2 separate regions of the Homo sapiens genome follow, and region 1 is linked to region 2. The links come from fine-mapping of genetic effects on plasma protein levels. A gene starts in region 2. The other region holds a variant in brackets. All regions are shown on one strand. Distances are from middle to middle.

Region 1 (9,509 bases), 11 kb after region 2:
AGAGACAGATACAGATGGGGACAGGAGCACCTGGGGGGCTCTGGGGGTATAGAGAAGGGGCACCTAACTGACCCTGGGGAAACTTCTTGGAAGAGGCGGTGGCTGAGCTGTGTTTTGAGGAACAGATGGGGCTCAGCAGGAGAGGTGAGAAGGGTGTCCCGGGCAGACAACACATCCTAAGCAAAGGCACGGAGGTTGGAAATAGGACATTGAGTGGGAACTCTGCACAGTTGAGTGTGGTCCTGGGAGGAAGCGGGGAAGATGAAGGTGAGTGACAGGCAGGATCCAGATTGTGGAGAGTCTGCGGGAGCCTGGACTTAACCTGCAGCCAAGGAGAGTTTTAAGCAGGGGAGTGACGTGGACCCTTTTGCCTTTAACCAGCCAATCTGCTGAGAGCATGGAGTTGGATTGGAAGGAACAAAACAGGTGTCAGGGAGCCCAGATACATGGCCAATATGGTCATTCCCAAATCAAGGGCTTGGAGCAGGCCAGTTGCACTTGGTATGGAAGGGAAAGGGAGAGTTGAAAATGTTTACTGGGTAACATGCACCACATTTGCTGACTGTTTCCACCAACTGAAATAAAGAATATGATGGAGGAGCAGACCTAGGGGGCATGTGGAGTGTGAAGTGTCTGCCCTGTGGATGGATACATGAGGCTGGAGCTCGGGACGAGCTCAGGCCTGAGATGTAGGCTTGGGAGTCATCAACTTGGAGGTGATATTAAAAATCTGGGAGTGGATCAAGTTGCCCAGAGAACAGAAGTGGAAGGCAGAGAGAAGGGCTGAGGAGGAAATCCTGAGGATGCCAGGGGTTCAGGGACTCTTGGGGAGAAGGAGGAGTCTGCAGTTGAGGCAGAGAGGAGAGAACTGGGTGGGTATCTACGGAGTCAGAGGAGCTAAGGGAGGAGAGAATTTCAAGAGGGTTGAGATCACACACTCATTGGCTTATTATTTACCATTTGGCCTCTTGTGAAAAGGACCTGCAGCTGGAGACCAAGAGACACAGGTCCAGGATTATTAGGACAAAGGTGAAATGAACTAGACCCCGAAGTACAGCAGGGAGTGACACGGGGCTAGCTTGGAGTCTCCTGGCAACCAAGATAAAAAGGGAAACGATGAGTTGCATCTTTCTGGTGACCTGTTGAAAGAGACACTAAATTTTAAGAGAAATTTACAGCACAAATGTTTCCTTTTTTTAAGAGATAGGATCTCCCTCTGTTCCCCAGACTGGAGTGCAGTAGTGTGATCATAGCTCAGTGCAGCCTGGAACTCCTGGGCTCAAGCAATCCTCCTGCCTCAGCCTCCTAAGTATCTAGGACTACAGGCACACACCACCATGCCCAGCTTTTTCTTTTTTAATTTTTTTGGTAGACATAGTGTCTTGTTATGTTGTCCAGGCTGGTCTCAAACTCCTCAAGCTGGGCTTAAGCAATCCTCCTGCCTCAGCCTCCCAAAGTGCTGGGATTACAGGTGTGAACCCCCACGCCCAGCCACACAATTTTAAGGGACATTCAACAACGTCATGAGAAGCGTCTAGAATAGCAATGCTGTTTTTCATTTGATTGCTCCTGTGGCCGACTCTTGGTGAGAAGCAACGTGTGATGTCAGGGGTGATTCTGGGCCTGCATTGCTCTGAGAGTGAATCTGCTTTACAGGGTGCTTTGCAGCTCCTGGTAATTTGACTTGATCCAGGTTGGAGCTCAATGCACCCACATTTTCAGAGACAGGAGCAGAAGAGGAGAGTATTTGAGCTTGATGTTGCGGGGCATGAAGGAGGGAGCATTCTGGGAAGCTTGGGCTTCAGCCGCCCAGCCCACTTGGTTCTGTGCAGAGGGCCGGCCTTACATGCAAGGTGTACATGAGGGTGTTTTAACACCTCCATGAATCACACTAGTGCCACTTTTTCCTAGGCAGTGACGCCCACTCCTCGTGGAGTGTGTGCGTGCAGGGGCTTGTCAGACATTTGAAAGTACTTGCGAGGGCAAAGAACTCCTTTACTCCCCATGGGATCTCAGGATGGAGCCTAAAGTTACATACCCCCAAGCCTGAAGTCTCTTTGATGTTTCATGAATTAACTCAAAGAATTAATGAGCATTTTGTATCTACTTAAAAGGGCATATGTGTTTTAATATAAACGTGTACTGATTTGCTGACCATGGAGTAAAACAGCCGCAGGAGGGGGCACCGCAGTGGAGGTTGTGCAGGCTCTTGGATGTGCTAGCAGTGCAGACACCCACAAGCTTACTAACGTTACAGGGCTGTCTGCCCCGTGCTCAGCAGTGCCTGGCACACGGGGGCACCAGATAAATGTGAGTTCTCAACCTTGAGCTTCCTCTGCTCAGGGTCTCTTACTTGGCCTCCTCTTGTTGCTGGTGCAGATGCCCACCCAAGAAGCCCTGCCTGAACCCCTGATGGACGTGGGCCCTGGGTGGGGTGGGAGCCCAGGCCTACAGCTCCGGAGTACTCACGATGCCAGTGCCCTGGAGATGGAGGTTCCCCGAGCCTGGATATGCTGGGTCTGTGGTCTGAGCCTGAGGGGAGCAGTCGGGCCAGCAGGGGGCGCCCGGCCCCCACCGTGGCCTGCTCTGCGGGCCGGGCTGGAGTCACAGCTGCTGTCGGAGCCTGTGTTAGCAATCGCTCTGGGAAGGGGTCCGTGTGCCTTTCCCTGAGGGCTGTTTTCAGGAAAGTCTGGAGCCAGGCTCTTGTGCTGACAACTGCAAGCAGCACCTGTCCCAGGTGACTCCCCACTGGAGGTTCTGAAATCCCCCCAGCTGCCTCCTGGTATCTTGACCCTTCACAGGCTGGGCATTCTGGGTGGTGTTGCTGGAGCCAAGGATGTGTGTTCCAGACACACCCTGCACCAAGGGATCTCCCCGAGCCCGAGGGCGTCAGATGCCCGCAGCCCCTGCACGCCAGCACTCCAGTGGCACACTGTGGGCACAGTCCGGGCCTGGGAGCATAAGAGTGAGTGACCCACACTTCAGTCGGGGGAGACAGGCCCAGTCTATGGGGAAAGCACAGAGGAGCGAGGAGTGAGGGTAGGTGCCAGGATGATGGTGTGTGCATACAGCAGGTGATAGAGGAGCTAGGAGTGAGGGTAGGTGCCAGGCCGATGGTGTGTGTATACAGCAGGTGACTTCGCTGAGCACCCACATGGTTACAGACACGGCGATGGCACTGAAACCACTGTGAGACTGAGAGCCTGCTGGGGTGTCTCTGTACAGAGTGAACATGCAGCAAGAGCTCCGTGAGTGAAGGGGTGAAGGCTTAGCTGCCCAGGAGCTGTGGGGAGAGGCCAAGGAGGCAGCGGGAGTCAGCCGCTGGCCCCACGGGAAGCTGAGTGCTGCCCTCTCTGAGTCAGATGGTGCTCAAGGCTGCCTTCTGATGACAGCAAGAGTCCTGGCCTGCTTGACTCGGGTGCCTGCGTGCAGAGAGGTCCTGCCTGACGCAGGGCAGAGAACAAGCCTTGGAAATATCTGTCTCCACTGCTTGCATTGGCTGGCCCGCCGAAGGCCACACTGGTTCACGGGAGAATGAGGTTGGTGCTGAGAACAGATGATTCACGGTGTTGCAGGAAGATGACCTGCCAGCCGGTGAGATCACCCTCCTGATATGCAGAAAGCTGGGAATGAACACAGTGGCCCTGATCACGTGCAGGCTGGGCAGGGGTCCCTGTATCAAATCTTGTTAACTGGACCTGTGACAGTGTCCAGAATGGCACCGTTATTGCATCTTTCCTCTGGGCCACTAAGATGTTTTTATTGAATCTGCTATCGGCCAGGCGTGTTAAGGACTGGAGCCTGAGGCTGGGAGACAGGCAGAGGGGCAGCAGGCGGGCGTACCTGGCACACTTCCTTTGGCTGCTGGGCCTTGGGAACCCCTGGTCGGGGTGAGAAAGGAGCACTGCCTGCCACTCTTCACTCAGGAAACCACATGCTCCTCTCATTCCAGGTCTCCAAAAAGTACAGCGAGATTGAGGAGTTTTACCAGAAACTGAGCAGTCGTTATGCAGCAGCCAGCCTCCCCCCACTACCCAGGAAGGTCCTGTTTGTTGGGGAGTCTGACATC[C/T]GGGAGAGGAGAGCCGTGTTCAATGAGATCCTGCGCTGTGTCTCCAAGGATGCCGAGTTGGCAGGCAGCCCAGAGCTGCTAGAGTTCTTAGGTACCCAAGGCTCTGCCCCATGTCCCTCAGGTCTCCCCGGCCCAGAACTAGGCCCCGCTGCCGTGCCCCAGTGGGAGCATGTCCACAGCTGCCTCTGCAGCCTGGAGGCTTCAGCCAGGCTGGTGAGGCAGGTGGCCTCGCTGACATCCTTGGCTGGATGGTGGGCAGAAGGAGGCCTACCCTTGAGGGACTGAACGTCTGGCTGTCAGGTGGGGGCTCACACAGCAGGCATTCTCCATAGTGTGACCCCATCCATGGCCTTCCTGGCCAGCCCCATTCCTAGAGCTTGCCCGACACCCCCCGACTGACCATGCACCACATACAACCCCCTGACACACACCCCACACTCCCCTCTGCCTCCTCCAACCAGCCCTAGGGACCTGCAGTATCCCGGGAAAGCTGTGTTCTCACAGCCTGGCTGGTGACCTGCCCCTGGGGACATGTGCTTCTCACCTGTGCCCCCACAGAGAGGGTCATGGGGACAGCTCCGGGCTGAGGAATTGATCCAGCACCCCTGCCCCCAGTGGTGGAGACGTCAAGCCCTTCCCATGGGTGTCCTGGCCCTGTCTTCTCTCCTCAGTTTTCTCATCTGTAAGGTGGGAGTAGCCTGGCTGATAGGCCGTTATGAGAATTTACAGAGCTAACACATGCAAAGTCCTTAGAACAGAAACAACCACAGTAAATAGTGGCTACAATTTTACCCCACTCCTCGGTTAGTCCTGTCAACCCAGAACCCCCGTGGGGCAGGCCCTGGTCTCACAGATGCCCCCAGGACAAGGCAGGTTCTCACCACTGCTGGTGCCGGACTCCCACCCCTTCTCCCCTCTTTACATCCGTCTGCTTAACTCCTTCCCAGCTACTGTGGATCTCCTAGTTCCACAAGACAGAAGGGAAGTTTTCAAAAGAAAGTTGACCGTAAATAAAACAAATTATTTAAAGTGAAAGGTGGGGAAGAGAAGCAAAACTGGTGAATGCGCAGGCCTAGGACTGGACAAGCTGCACAGCCCCGGTGTCCTGTGGCCATGTTGGGCCCCTCACATGGGTCTGGGTTCTCTTCTGCCCTTGTTGTTCCAAGGTCACAACCCTTCCTTCCTTGCCTGTCTCTGGGGCTGGGTAGACTGTGCCAAGAGGTTCCAGCTCAGCCATCGCTGGAAGAGATGCTCAGGATGTCCCAGCCCCTCTCTGGTGGAGAGGCAGGATAGAAACACAAGCTGCTCTATGCCTCACTTTGCTCATCTGCAAGATGGATGTACAGTAGGGATCTCTCTCATAGGGCTTTTGTGATGTTTAAATGTAAGATGCTTATGACATGAAATTGAAGGTTTGGGAGATTTTGAATGGCTTTTCACATTTGTCCAAGTAAAATAACAGAGCATCACATAATACGATATCGTCATTATCACTCAGTGCATCCTGTATGCCAGACACTCTCTAAGTTCTTTACCTACAAGGTGATTTTATTAAAAGTCAGTTGTTTTAAACTACCCAGTAAGCACTTGGATAGAAATGAACAAATAGTCTGAGCCCACGCTTCTCAAACTATCTGTGGCAAGGGCTAGCTCTTTTATTCCCAGCCTGTCACAGATGGATACTTTCACAAATACAAAAGCACACTTGGGTATTGTGATGATGGCAGCATGCTATGAAGTTTCTGGATGCTTGCTCTCCCTTTCTCTACTTACCTCATTGTGGTCACACAGGGGGCATTCTCTGTCTGAAGACCACACTTCAAGAAGCGCTCATCTAAGCCAGTTTGTAATGGAGTGATTACCGTTTGTTCTGGAATCTTCCACATGCTTACCCTGGGCACCCATCCAGTCCACAGTCCAGGTGCCCAGACTCTCGGGGCAGGTCTCTGTCTGCAGAGTTCCTTGCCGTGCCTCCAACTGTAAATGGTTCTGGCTGTACTGGTTCTTTTTGAATCACCCTGTGCCCTGGCTGTTGTATCCCACCGCTCACCCGGGAGGAGGGTGCAGCCATCCCTGCGGCGCACACAGGCTCTGGGCCTTGGGTTCAGGAACCGCTGCCCCTGTCTTGCTCTGAAGCTCCCACTTGTGACCACTCCACTCCAGGCTTCCTTGGTGCCCGTCAGCCCTTGGGGGGCTGCAGCAGGCACTTGGCTGCCCCCGAAACGGAGGTCACCTTCCATCCACCCAGACTCGCCATCCTGCTTAGGTCCCAGGAGGGACGAGTTTGGTCCCAGGAGGCTGCAGGAAGCCCTCGGCCTCAGATCCTGGCATGGGAGGGTGCAGTGTGGCAAGATGCCTCCCCTGGCTCTGGGGTGGTTACCAAGTCCATTCTTTTCTGTCTTCCTCCACAGGTACCAGATCCCCAGGGGCTGCAGGGCTCACCAGCAGAGATTCCTCTGTCCTGGATGGCACAGACAGTCAGACAGGGAATGATGAAGAGGCTTTCGACTTTTTTGAGGAGCAAGACCAAGTGGCAGAAGAGGGTCCGCCCGTCCAGAGCCTGAAGGGCGAGGATGCTGAGGAATCCTTGGAGGAGGAGGAGGCGCTGGACCCTCTGGGCATTATGCGGTTGGTCTCCTGTTGTTGAGAGGGCCCCTTTGGTGTATTCCAGGCTTTCTGGAGATGACGTCCCCCTTCCCTGGAATCTGAGAAAAGCCCTGAGCATCCCAGGTCGCCCCCTCGCAGGGATCTGGGCCACGAGGCCTTGGCCTGGTGTGTTGGGGGAAGTAGCTCTCTGCGTGCCCTTGGTGGTGTGCATGTCTCTGGGACTGGGCTTAGGTGTCGCCTCCCTTCTCGGGTCACAGGATGTCCTCCACTTGTGGCTCCGCACTGGGGCTTGGTAGAGTCCTCCGTGACAGCTCAGTAGTGCAGGCTGCGGGCCTGTCCGGCTAGTGTGGGAGGACTGGGTGCTCCTTCCAGCTGTGGGACTCGCAGAGGTGGCTGCGGCTCTCTGGGCTGCATCATCTGCATAGCAGGAGCATTCACCTTGGCCCTGCCTCCACACAGGGCCATTCACCAGCCATACATCTCTGGCCATTTACAATCTCTTTTCTTCGGTTTTCCTCAGTGAAAATGGACTCATGGTCGTATCAACCTCTTAGGGCTCCTGTGACGATGAACTGAGTTATGTAAATTTAGCAATCAGCTACCATCATGGCCCCATCTTTCAGTGGAATCAGACCAGGCCAGGGGTGCTGTCCTCCCCGCTCTCTACCACAACGAATGTCTCTTAGCCGTTTACCAAAGCCCTCGGGCGCCAGATGAGTGTAGGTCCTGCCGCAGAAAGGAATTAGAGCCCAGTAGAAATTAGGCAGAAGCAAGTTCAACTTCATCAGCATGTAGAATTCTCTCCTAAAATCACAGCCCACTCTGGAAAGGCCTTCTTCGTGGGGAGGGTTATGGGAGGGTGGGCTGCAGGGTGGCCATGAGACCAGCGTCCAGGGGTGAGGATTTGCACTGGGAAAGGGTACGCGGCGCTCAGGGAGCTGCAGCAGAAACAGGCCTGAGATCTGGGGTCCTGCGGCACCTGGGCACAGCAAGTGCCCTGCAGTCGCTCCTCCTGGCCCTCCGTGGCTGGCCTTGTCCCTGAGTGGGGTCAGCGGCCCTGAGGGAGAGGCAGCCAGAGTAGTGGGTGATATGGGGACAAGCCTGTAATAGTCACTCCTTATCAGCCTGGCCCAACGCGGCAGGCCTTTCTTGGGCTTTATTTTGGTAAGGGTGAGGCTTTGTTTGAACTCACATTCTCTGTTGTTCTGAGTAACCACACGTAGTGCCAAACCGAGATGGACTTTGGTGGTCTGTGCCAACCTTTGGCTGAAGAACACACTTAGCCGAGCGGCTCCTTTTTTGGGTAGGAAAATGTTCTTTGTGGCTGGCAAGTGCTGCCTTGAACTTCCTACTTACTTCATTAGCAGATTGTCAGGGGAGATGTGTCAGCTATCCTGGGACCCCTTGGCGGGGCGGGGGGGGCGGGGGCAGCCCCCTCCCCAGCTCTGTACTCTGGGGCCCTCACCCCTGAATCCTGGGAAAGCTTAGCACCTAAGAGTAATCCTGCCGGCTTAAGACCCTCCCCTGCTGGGGTTTCTTTTTAAGGACCCGTGTGACAAGGTGCTGATGAATCAACGTTATCACCTCTGTCAGGAATAATAAGTAAATTTTTTGAGAGTTTATGAAATGCTGGGAACTAAGTTAGCATTTGCTTGCATGATCTCATTATATCTGTAAGACAGCATTTCTGAAACTACTTGCTACAACCCATAGTAAAAACTATATGGTACGCCATGACCCAGGACACACATGTATAAACATCCCATAAAACTGAAGCAAAAGTTCCCAGAACTCATACAAAACCTTACTAAGTGTATTGTACTGGGATATTTTCTATTCTATTTCAACGTTTGGAAAGGTCATGACTCGCCAAACTGCTTTCAGGATCCACTGTGGGCACAGGTCAAGAAACGGAGCCCTGGAGGCCTGCACTGGCATCAGCCTCTTCTGTGTGGTGGGAAACTCAAGTTCAGGGTCAGGTGGTTCGTCCACGTTCCTGCAGCCTGCAGATGGCAGAGCCAGGACCCCACGCCATCTCCAGTCCAGTCTTTATCAGCCTGGGAGGTGGGCAGGGCCCCAGGATTATCCCCCTTTCACAGATGGTAAAATCGAGGAAGGAGTTGAGCAGGATCTTGGCCAGAGCCGTGTGTGTTCCAGAGCTGTGTGTGTGGCAGAGCCGTACCTTGAAGTTGGGTTTCCACCTCGGCCTTTCACAGACACCCAGGTGGGCTTGTTGATCTCTCTTGGTGCCACCCACCTGCCCTTTGGTGGGGGACTTTCTGTTCTTCTCGGGAGGCTGTTTGTGCACCCCTCTCCCTCCCGTGCGCTTGGTTCCTGTGCAGATGCAGCGGCACCCGTTTCCCAGCTTGCCCTGCCCCATGTCTGGGCTTAGCTCTGGGCTCTCCTGGAGCGGCCACCATTTCCATGCAACCAGCCTCGGTCCTTCCCCGCCGTGGCCGCGGCGAGGCGCTGCTGCTCTGCTGAAGGGCTGCTCCACGGCAGGGCTGCTGGGAGGGTGGGAGTCGCCAGCACAAAGCCGGAGCCCAGGCCGGCCTGGCTTTTCTTTGTCTTTTAAACCTGGTTTTGATTAGGGACAAGAGAGCGTTATTACACCATTAGAGAGCAATTAAAGATAGAAAAAGCCCTCACCTCGGCCCATCCCAACACCACCGCTCTCTCCATCTGCTGGGGCTCTCTTCTGACCCCGTCCCAGCAGCATCCATGCAACCGCAGGCACAATGCACGTGCCTTTTCGTACTCTGCTTTTCCACCCTATGGTCTGTCCCGATTGCTGCTCCATGTCGCCCCTGTTTTGTATTTAAGTTTCTATTTT
Region 2 (9,828 bases):
GTCCCCCTCTGGAAGAGGGGGCCCTACTCCCTTCTCCCCTTCCCACCTCCTGTCCCCTCCTCCACCCACTGGGACACTGCCCTCCTCGAGGCCAGAGAACACTTTTCTCTCTTCAAAGATTCTCTTCTTGACCAAACTGAGCTTTGAGCTCCTGAACCTTCTCTTAGACCTATGCATGCACTTCCTTGTAAAATCCAGTTTTAGGAAGAACGTGGCTAAGTCAGGTTACCAACATCCTCCCACCCTGCCTATCTGATCACCCTCGATATCCAACTGGGTTCCCCCTCCTCCACCATCCCCAGGTGATGTCTGACCATCCTGGCCCATCTTCAGCAAGAATCCTGTTAGGTCGGCATAGCCAGAGTCCCCCCATACTCGTCTTAGTAATGTTCCAGCCACCACTCCCACCCTGTTCCTTGGCTATAAATTCCTACTTTCTCATGCTGCATTCGGAATTTAGCCTAGTTCTATACTGGGGTCTCTTACCCCTATTGCAGTAGTCCCAAATAAAATCTGCTTTCACCACTTTAACTACTGTTCAGTTCTGTGGGGTTTTTTTGTTTGTTTTTCTTGAACACCTCCTTATCTTCCTGGATGTTCAGCAGTGTTTGGCATTGCTGATCACACCCCAGTCTCTTCCTGAAACACTCTTTTCCCTTTGTTCTGTGAGCCCACTCCCTCCTTCTTCAGGATAAGATGTGAGCTCCTTTGCATAGCGCACAAGGCCCTCTATGCTGCGGGAACACAGGCTCCTCTTGCCCTCTGCTGCCTCCTCTCCCAGCAATCCTTCCACATATTCTTCTCACCAGCTCCTCAGATACGCTCTGGTTCTATCAAGACGTACTAGGCTGAGCATGGTGGCTCACACCTGTAATCCTAGCACTTTGGGAGGCTCAGCAGGGCAGATTGCTCGAGCCCAGGAGTTCAAGGCCAGTCTGGGCAACATAGGGAAACCCTGTCTCTACAAAAAACACAAAAATTAGCTGGGCATGGTGGCACACACCTGTGATCCCAGCTACTTGGGAGGCTGAGGTGGGAGGATCACCTAAGCCCAAGGAGGTTGAGGCTACAGTGAGCTGTGATCATGCCACTGCGACAGAATGAGACCCTGTCTCAAAAAAAAAAAAAAAAAAAAAAAAAGACAAGCTGCCTTCCTAGTACACATTTTACCTCTTTTCTTCCTCCTCCTCAGTCATCCCTGCATCCCCTATGGAGCAGTTTTTATGTCAGGCATTATGTAAGTACTTTACAACTACACCAACAGGAAATCCACTGCAGAAAACCCCCACTTAGAGTGATTTAGGCATTTATGCAAGGAGAACTTTGTAGAAAAAGTCCAGGGCGTGTATGCAAGCTCATATGCCATCAGCTCCCCAGGCTTGTTCATCCCTAACATGGTAGACTCCAAACTCATGTCTGTGCCTCCTGCTCCCATGATGGCTGCTGTGTCTCCAACACTGTATCCCCTTCCCAGGTAGAAGACAAGGAAGGAGCGAAGAGTTTTCTCCTAGCAAGATAAATCCTCCACAGGGACTTAAGTATATGTGGTCAGTTATGTCACATGGCCCCTTGTAACTGAAATGGGACATGTGTTTTACTTCTCCAGCCTCTATGGTAATAAAAACCAGGAAGAAGGGGGTTGTGAATGGCTTCCGGTTAGCTCATCACCAATGCCTGCCATACATTTCATCTTGTTTCAGTCTCATTTTACCTCATGTAATTCAAGCAATGTTATGATTTAAAGGTTTCTGTTACGTGCATTTCACCAGTGAGAAAATCAAGTCTCAAAAAAATAATACCTACTTTTTACAACCCAGGTCTGCCATCACCTCCTCCTGGCAGAATTCTTTGTATGCCCAACCCTAGGCTGAGTTAGTTATGTGCCCTCCTCTGTGCACCATAGCACCCTAGGCGTGCATCCTTGTTGAAATCTCCAGCTGTCCTAGAGTGGCCTGTGAGCCCCTGCAGTGGGCTGTGAGCCCCACAGGATAAGGCTCTGTAGCCCCCAGGCCTGGGGAGATAACAGGCCTGGAGCTGTACCTATGAGTGTTTGCTGAGTGACAAGCAAGGTGGTGGCCCTGCTCCATGTGGATGTGCCCAGACCCTGGAGCTCTAAAGTATCACATTAGGGAACAGAGACAAATTATAAGGTCCCAGAAGACCCGAGCCACCATGGGAAACGTTGGTGCATGGCTCAGCCAGAGTTCAGAGCACCCCCTGCAGGCTGCGGGTGTCTCTCAGTGACCACAGTGTCCTGAGGCCCAGTGACTTCCTGGGTGGAAACTGAGGCCTGGAGTGTTCCTCCCAGGGCAGTGAGAAAGAGAGAAATAGAAAATCCTTTGCAATGTGGTTTGTGTTACCGCAGCTTCAGCCATGGAAGGGGCTCCTTGAATTAAACAGGAAGCAGAAAATATCAGATTTAGATCCCACATTCCATGCATTGTATACAATTACGCGCTGGAGCCATAGAGGGGCACGTGGGACCCACAGAGGCAGAAAATGGGATTGCTGTTGGGAATGGGGTCGTTCTTTCATGGGAAACCAGTTGCATTCTTGACAGGTGGGCCGAGTCTTCCTGAGGTGCACACTTCACAACCCCAGGGGCACAGGTGAGGCCCTCTCATTTGCTTACAAGGCATTGGTGACAGACATGCTACCAGCTCCCACAATGATGGAGAGTCCCCTTCTCTGCAGCCCCCCAACACCGCTGCATATCTCTGGATTGTAGACCATCCTTGGTGGGCTCACCCCAACTCTCAGGCTCAACAGCCTCCTTTTTACCCATGACTCCTATGTCAGTCTCCAGCCCAGGTCGGCTTCCTGAGGCCCAGGGCCATAAACCCAATCGCATCAATAGGTCCAGCCCTTCAAACACTGCCTGTCTGAAACAGAACCCATCATCCTACCAAAAATATGCTCCTTCTCCAGGTGCCCTGCCACAGAGAATGATACCAATGTCCAGCCACTCACAAGAGCCAAACCATAGTGGTATCTTATCTCTTCCCGCCCACACCCATTGGATTCCCAAGTCTTGACCAACTCCTTCTCCTAAGGCCCTCTTACCCGTCCCCTCTTCTCCACCTGGGTGGCCATCACCCTAGTTCATGGGACCATTGTCTCTTGTCTGGATTGTTCTGCAGTCCAGCTCATCTTCATACCTTCAACATGCTCCAAAACCCTGCCCACGCCCTAGCTGGCCCAGCCACTCCTATGTCCCTGACCCTCTGATGGCGCTGTGTTGGCCTCAGGATCAGGCAAAGCCCTGGCCTTGGTGCACTAGGCTGTCCACACCCTGGCTCCTGCTGGCCTCTTCCCCCTGTTCCCTGGTGTTCCTATCCTGTCGCTAGGGCTTTGCACGTGACATTCCTTCTAATCTATTCTATCCATATTTCTTCAGGTTTTCCCTTGGACTTCAGCTCCTTTAGAAAGCCTTTCCAGACCCCCACCCACTCCCCATGTAGGAGGGCAAAGAAGTCCACTGAAGGCATCTAAAGTGTCTTATTCACTGTGTTTCTGTCTGTTGGATAAATGTGAGTGCAATGGTGACTGCTCGACTGCCTGGCACTACACTCAGACTCCTGGAATGCTGAAGCCTATACTGCTTTCTGTCCAGACCCTGAACTCCCTTTCTCTAAAGTAGGGCATGCCAATTTAAACAAAACACGGAGGACCATTTGCAGCCATGAACACGGCCCTGCAGACGGACAGGCCGATGAGCAGCAGAGCAGACAGGGGTTCCCGCCATCATCCCAGCTCTTCACTGCAGCCTTCAAGGGTCTCCCTCAGAACTTTCATTCATTGTCATACTTCATTCATGATTGCTCATCTTGCCTATAAACAAATCTGAGACAAATAATAAGGCATATCAATGTCCGTATTTATTCAAGAGATACATTGGGGAAAGTCATTTTTCAAAATCTTTTACTGTAGGATTTCTTCACTAAAATCTGTAAAAACTGGTAGATATTGTTGGTGATGCTGGTGGCGGTGGTTGATAGGCTCAGGAAACATGGCTGACATCGCCCTGCCGTGAATTCTGGTATAGTTAAGCCCAGCTTCTCTTTCTTTTTGTCACTGGGGCTCTGGGTGGAGGGAGTAACAGAACAGGGGCAGCAGTTTGCACCTTCTGCTGGCCCTGTTTGCAGACTCAGCTTTTCTTTCCCTGGGCTACGTTGGCAGGTGATACGATCTCTCTGTTCCTCACCCCATGGAGAGGTGAATCTAAAATGAGTGGGTCTGTTAGGGTCTGCATGTCTGTACGTTCCCCTTCTGAGGGGAACTGGCTCCTGGACCCCGTTGCCCTGCTCCAGCTGGGGACCCAAGTGCAGCCATCCCAGGCAGGCCCGGCCCCGGGAGGCCTCCACCAGGGCTCTGCCAAGCAGCAGAGGCTGCCTCTCTAAAGATCCCCTGTCGGGAGAGTGCCTGCCATTTATGGAGCGGGCAGGCAGTAGGAACCAGATAGGCGAGCTAGCTGGAGGCAGCAAGCTCAAGGGGACTGGGCTGCTGCGTGGCGTTCACTGTGCAGCTTGAAGAAGACCCCACGAAGCCTGGACAGAGCCCCAGCTTGGTAAATATTTGTTGACCGATCGGTTGAATGAAATGGTCTTGGGGCAGAGGGGGAGTGGTTTTGTAATGGGGACTGGCGGCGGAAACAGCAGAGTCCCGTCTCTCTAACGGCTAAACTTTAGCGCAAAACAGACACACCGATTAAGGTTCACCGTGTGCCAGGGCCAGGCTGGGCTTCTTCTAGGTGGTTGCGGCGGGCGCGGCTCAGCCTGGGTGCTCCGGAAGCTCCGAGCAGCGCAGGCCGACGGCGACCGTGCGGGACCCGCCCAGCCGCGCTTCCGCCCCGCCTCTGGCCACAGGCGCGAACTGCGCGGCCGCTGCCACCAGGGGGCAGGCCAGGGCAGCGGGAGGCAGGGCGGGGACGCGGTGACGCGGGCACTGCCGGGTCCCGTGACTGCGCGCCCCGCCCGGAGTCCCCGCCGCCGTCATGCAGTCCCCGGCGGTGCTCGTCACCTCCAGGTGAGCCAGACCCCCGCGCCCCACACCGCACAGCTCGCAGTCCGGGGCGCCCGGGCGGAGAGGCGGGGGGAGGCCGCCGCCTCCTAGGCCAGGGACCTGGTGCAGGTCTCCCCAGCGCCCTCGGTGGCTTATCCGGGCTGGGCCCCTGCACCGCCCTGCAGGAGAGGTGGCGACCCCGATTTACAGATGAGGAAACCGAGGCCCTCTGGAGGGTAGAGAACTAGCCAAGGACAGCGGGAGCCCTGGGACTGACTGGTTCAGTGCAGGCGGGCGCAGTGGGGACTCTGCTCTCCTTTCCTACCGCCTTGGGTTCTTCTCTTTTGAGCCCGAAAATCTAGTTCCCCATCCTTTCAGAGCTCCCTGAGTCCCAGGCCCGGTGCTGGGCACTGGGGACAGAGGCGAATCAGACAAGCTCGCCCTGCAGGGGGCTGCAGCGGAGAGGGGGTGATGCCAGCAGCGGGTAGTAAGCTCAGGTTGCCATGGGAACACAGTACAGGGCAGGAACCCGGTTTCTGGGAGGATGAGTTTGATGAGAGACCAGGGAGAGGTCGTTGCTGCTTGCGAGGCAGCTCAGGAGAGCGCAAGTTACAGCAAAAGCCTTGGAGGGGTCCAGGCGGAGGATGCAGAATGGGTCGGCCCTGATCGAGACCTGGAGGACCCAGCCCAAGGTGGATCCTGGCAAGGCTGGGAGGCACGTGCTTTTACTTCTTTCCGCCTTTAAAACGCTGTAAAGTGATTTACTTCAAATATTTTCATACACTTCACCCTTGCTCTCCCTACACAAAGTCTTAGGCTAAGATGCCAATTTATGACATAAATGAACGTGTTACCCAGCCAACTGTTGATCTTCCAGTTGTAATCAGGAATTCCCCGTGACTTCAGGTCTAGAAAGGTATGATTCCTTTTGTAAACCCTGATGTCGGAGGCTGCTTGGTCTTTCATGATCAAGTGTGGTTACAGTTGTATCTTCATGGGCAGAAGAGGTTTCCCTACTGCCACTTACGTCACCTCCTCTCACCAAGCCTCAGTTTCCTTTTCTGTGAATTGGAGGTTTCAGATTGGCAGGCATGAGCAACGTCAGTAGTATATGCCCCTCAGCCATGTGCAGATGGATGGGGTGTGACTTTGGTGCTGGGTGCTTGGGATGGGGTGGGTGGCTTCCCTCCCTGCCCCGCTGCACAGCCTGGACGTGGCTTGTTAACAGATGTGGGGGCGCTGGCGGTGGTAAGGCCACATGAGTCAGGCTCATTTCTTGCTGAGGGCACCAGCACACCCAAGGATCTTGCCTGCAGGGTGAGTCCAAACGCCTTAGCCCAGCAGCAAGGCCGGCCCTTCCCAGTCGCACCCCAGCTCCTCTTTCCAGCCCGATCTCCTCCCACATGTCATTGCCACATGCACTCAAGCTTGAATTCAGCCAGAAGGTGTTTATCGAGAGCCTTCTCTGTACCGGGTACTGGCCCTAGTTCTAGGAGACAAACAAGTCCCTCTCGTAGAGCTTTAATGAGGGCACAGGCCCAGTGGGCAAATCTACGACATGTCAGGGATGATACATGCTATGAAGGAAAACAAAACAGTGGGGGCAACAGAGTGGTAGGAGGCATGCATGCTGTTTTCTATGGTGTGGTAAAGAGGCATCTTTCTGATGGAGTGGCGCCTGGACAGATCCCGGACAAGCTCCATGAGGGAGAGAGCCATGAAAAAGAAATCTTGGAAAAGTGTGTACTGGGAGGACAGGACAGCAGGAGCCAGGGTCCCGAGGCTGGTATGCTGGAGTGGAGTGAGCCCAGGGAGAGTGTTAGGTGATGCGGTGAAGAGGCAAGCTTGGGAGTGAAGGATGATCAGGAAAGGCCGAGAAGGCTGTGGAGGGGCCATCAGATTTAATTTCAAGTGCAATAGGGCCCAACTTCTGGTTTATAGAGATCCTTTGGCTGCTATGCTGAGCATGGGCAGTGGCCGAGCTGAGCATTCAGGACAGGCTTGTAGGTTTCCATGTAGAGCCGGTGGTGGCTTGGCCCGGGGTGATGGCGGCCGTGAGGGTGAGAAATGTTTGGGTTCTCGATATATTTTGAAGATTGAGCTTTCAGGTTTGCTGATGCTTGGATATGGGGTGTGAGAACAAGAAGAGAAGTTAAGACTAACGGCAAGTCTCTCAGCCTAAGCTGCTGGAAGAATGAGGCTGCCCTTTAGCAGGCTTGGGGAGAGGTAGAAGCAGCATTTGTGTAGACAGGTGAGTTTTGAGAAGCTCGTTGACAGCCCAGTGGGGATGTCAGGCAGCTGCAGCTGGAAGGAGGCTGGCTGTGAGGGGAGAGTGAGCTAAAGATGGGAGTTGGGGAGCCATTGGCTCGGAAATGGTATTTAAAGCCTGGAGCCTGGATGAGATCACCTGGGGAGGGGTACAGTGAGAGGAAGAAGGAGGGTGCTCTGGATGCTATCAAGGGGAACCATCCAAAGCAGTTCCTCTCCTCCTGTTTGAGCAAGAGTGGCCAGGGTGGGCAGAGAAGAACCAAGAGTGAGGGGGTGCTCCAGCCACCAGTGAAGGCAGAGCTTGAAGGAGGGGAGTGGCTGACTGTGCCCACTGCTGCTGACAAGTCAGACCAGAGGAGAAATGAGGATTCACCTTTGGATTTAACCACATGGAGGTCGCAGATGACCTGGGCGTGGGCAGTTTGTTGCATGATGAGGACCAAAGTCTGGCTGGAAAGGGTTCAAGATCAAACAGGAGGAGAGGAACCCATGAATATGGGGCCCTCTGTTGAGGAGTTCTGCTGGAAAGGGCAGGAGGGAAACGGAGCAAGGGGAATGTCGGGTCAAAGCACAGCTTTTGTTACATGAGTGGTCAGAGCATGGTTGCATGCTAATAAGCGTGGGCCAGTAAGGAAGGAAAATCGATGGTGCGAAAAAGAGGGGTGAGCTGCAGCAGCTATGTCCTTCAGTAGGTGGGAGGGCCTCGGAGCCGCTGCCCTGGTAGAAGGTTGGCCTTAGGAGCAGCCAGCCAGTTTGTCTACAGTCCCAGGAGAGGGCAGCTATCAGGGAGCAGCTGCAGGCTGATGGGCAGATGTGACAGCGAAGCCTAGGATGTTCTCCGATGGTCTCTGGAGCAGTACACAGCAGTGTCCACATCACTTGGGAATTTGCTAGAGATGGTGAGGGCACACCCCGGGGCCTGCAGAACCAGAATCTGCATATTAACAGGATCCCCAGGGGGTTGCACGCACATTACAGTTGGAGAAGCTTGGTCTAGGGCACATCCTGCCCACCACACCCCCATTTGTTTATGTACTCTCCGTAGCAGCTGCAGCAGAGACCAGATACCCTACACAGCCTGAAATATTTGCTATCTGACCCTGTAGAGAAAGTTTTCCTATGGGTTCAGGGAAGTGGGAGGGTGATGGAGTAGGCCCAGGTGCATCAGACTCGTCGGAGGGCTTACTAAGAAAACAAGATGGCTGGCCACCCTAGGCCCGAACATGCCTTTCTTACAAGTTCCCAGGCGATGCTGATCCTGATCCAGGGACCACACTTTGAGAACCCCACATCTAGGGCAAGGTAGGGTTGCCAAGCCTGGTGTGGTGCTGTGCCTTCAAGTCTGCAGCCATGAATTTCAATGGGACCAGGCTGCATGTTTACACCATGTCTGTCCCCAGTCACGTTGAGCCACTTGGGCACAGGGTGAAGGAAGCAGAGAACTGGAGAAGTGGGCTTTGACCAGGCCAGCTCAGCTCTGGGTAAGAAGTCAGGGGAGCTGGGCCTAAGGCAGAGGGATTCCAGCAATGGAATGGGACCCTGGAAAAGGGGTGGGGTTATGGATTGTGGGTTCTGGCGTGGTCAGAGAACCATTGGATGTGGGGTGCTGTGAGGGAGCTGGATCGTGGGAGGTGCCCATCTGGGTCTGCTCCATCCCTTTCCCACCCCTGAGAGGACCTCCCCGCAGCTCAGGCACTGCCCTTCTTGTCACTTTCACCCCCCTGTGCCTCGTTTTCATCATGATCCTAAAGAAATGATGCCTGGCTTCTTTCTCATGCCTGCCCCATAAGAGGCCACCTGGGCTCTGGAGCAGCTGCCTGGGATTGAACGCAGCTCCACCTCATGCCGGGTGAGACCTGGGCAGGCACTTTCCCTTTAGGGGTCTGTTTCCCTGTATTTTAAGTGGGTCTGGGTAGCAGAGCTCCTTCGCAGGGTTGCAGGAGGCGGAAGTGACTTCACACAGGTGCATCCCTAGAGCCCAGCGCGTCTCCCCTCAGCATCCAGCCTCACCTTCCTCCTCCACACTGGTGGCAGTGACACCGTGGGTGACACCAGGCCGCGCGTGCACACTGCGTGAACTCGGTGCCGTTGGCAGAGGGCTGGCTGTGCGTGTGCACCTCCCAGTGCCCATTCGGCCCTTGCTGCACTTTTCACCACCTGAAGGCAGGTTGCCTGGGGTGCCCTACGCCGCGGGAGGATATTCCTTGTGTGTACAGCACTCAGTCATTGGGTGTCATACATGGCATAGGAGACGCATCACTGTAGGCCTCACCAGTTGGTGACAGCAGCGTTGTGCTGGTGACAGCGTGGCCTAGCGTGGGATGTGAGGGGTCCGTGTGGGAGGAGTGCTGGGGCAGGGGGATTTGATGGATTGGGGTATAATTCCAGAGAGGGAAGGGCCTTGCCCCAGACACAGGTTAAGCTCCAGAAGCTCCTCCCGTGTTTTCAGGGTCCTGCCCAGCACACAGGAGGTCTCACCTCGATGGTCAGAGCTGCTCAGAGGGTGCCCCACGTGTCCTGCCAGAGGTGTTTGCGTGAGGGATGTTAGTCTGCACAGGT

Direction of the effects. Alleles are on the strand shown, and positions count from the first base shown. The strength of an association depends on the size of the effect and on how common the allele is.
For the plasma level of the protein whose gene starts at base 4,959 in region 2, allele T in region 1 goes with a lower level than allele C (moderate association).

The links. PIP is the posterior inclusion probability: the model's chance that the variant is causal. The UK Biobank Pharma Proteomics Project read protein levels with antibody pairs (Olink). The fine-mapping took linkage between variants from a reference panel, not from the people measured, so its PIPs are less certain.
Region 1: its variant is fine-mapped to the plasma level of the HS1BP3 protein (UK Biobank, PIP above 0.99). The variant lies in the coding sequence of HS1BP3. If it changes the protein, the assay may bind it differently, which can mimic a change of level.

Annotation. Positions count from the first base shown.
Region 1 is chr2:20,635,624-20,645,132 of GRCh38, reverse strand. HS1BP3 (HCLS1 binding protein 3) reads left to right here. Exons shown (of 7, transcript NM_022460.4): 3 at 3,953-4,160; 4 at 6,481-6,697. It overlaps LOC124907740 (a long non-coding RNA gene), which reads left to right and starts at 6,704. Exons shown (of 2, transcript XR_007086243.1): 1 at 6,704-8,900. RefSeq lists enhancers at 2,323-2,452, 4,289-4,790, 9,340-9,389. The variant C/T (reference allele first, on the strand shown) is at 4,070.
Region 2 is chr2:20,646,229-20,656,056 of GRCh38, reverse strand. HS1BP3 (HCLS1 binding protein 3) reads left to right here and starts at 4,959. Exons shown (of 7, transcript NM_022460.4): 1 at 4,959-5,025. The coding sequence starts at 4,994. LOC105373466 (a long non-coding RNA gene) reads right to left here and starts at 4,775. Exons shown (of 2, transcript XR_001739320.2): 1 at 4,705-4,775; 2 at 3,857-4,082. RefSeq lists enhancers at 4,541-5,278, 5,363-5,512, 5,533-5,612 and a silencer at 4,693-5,282.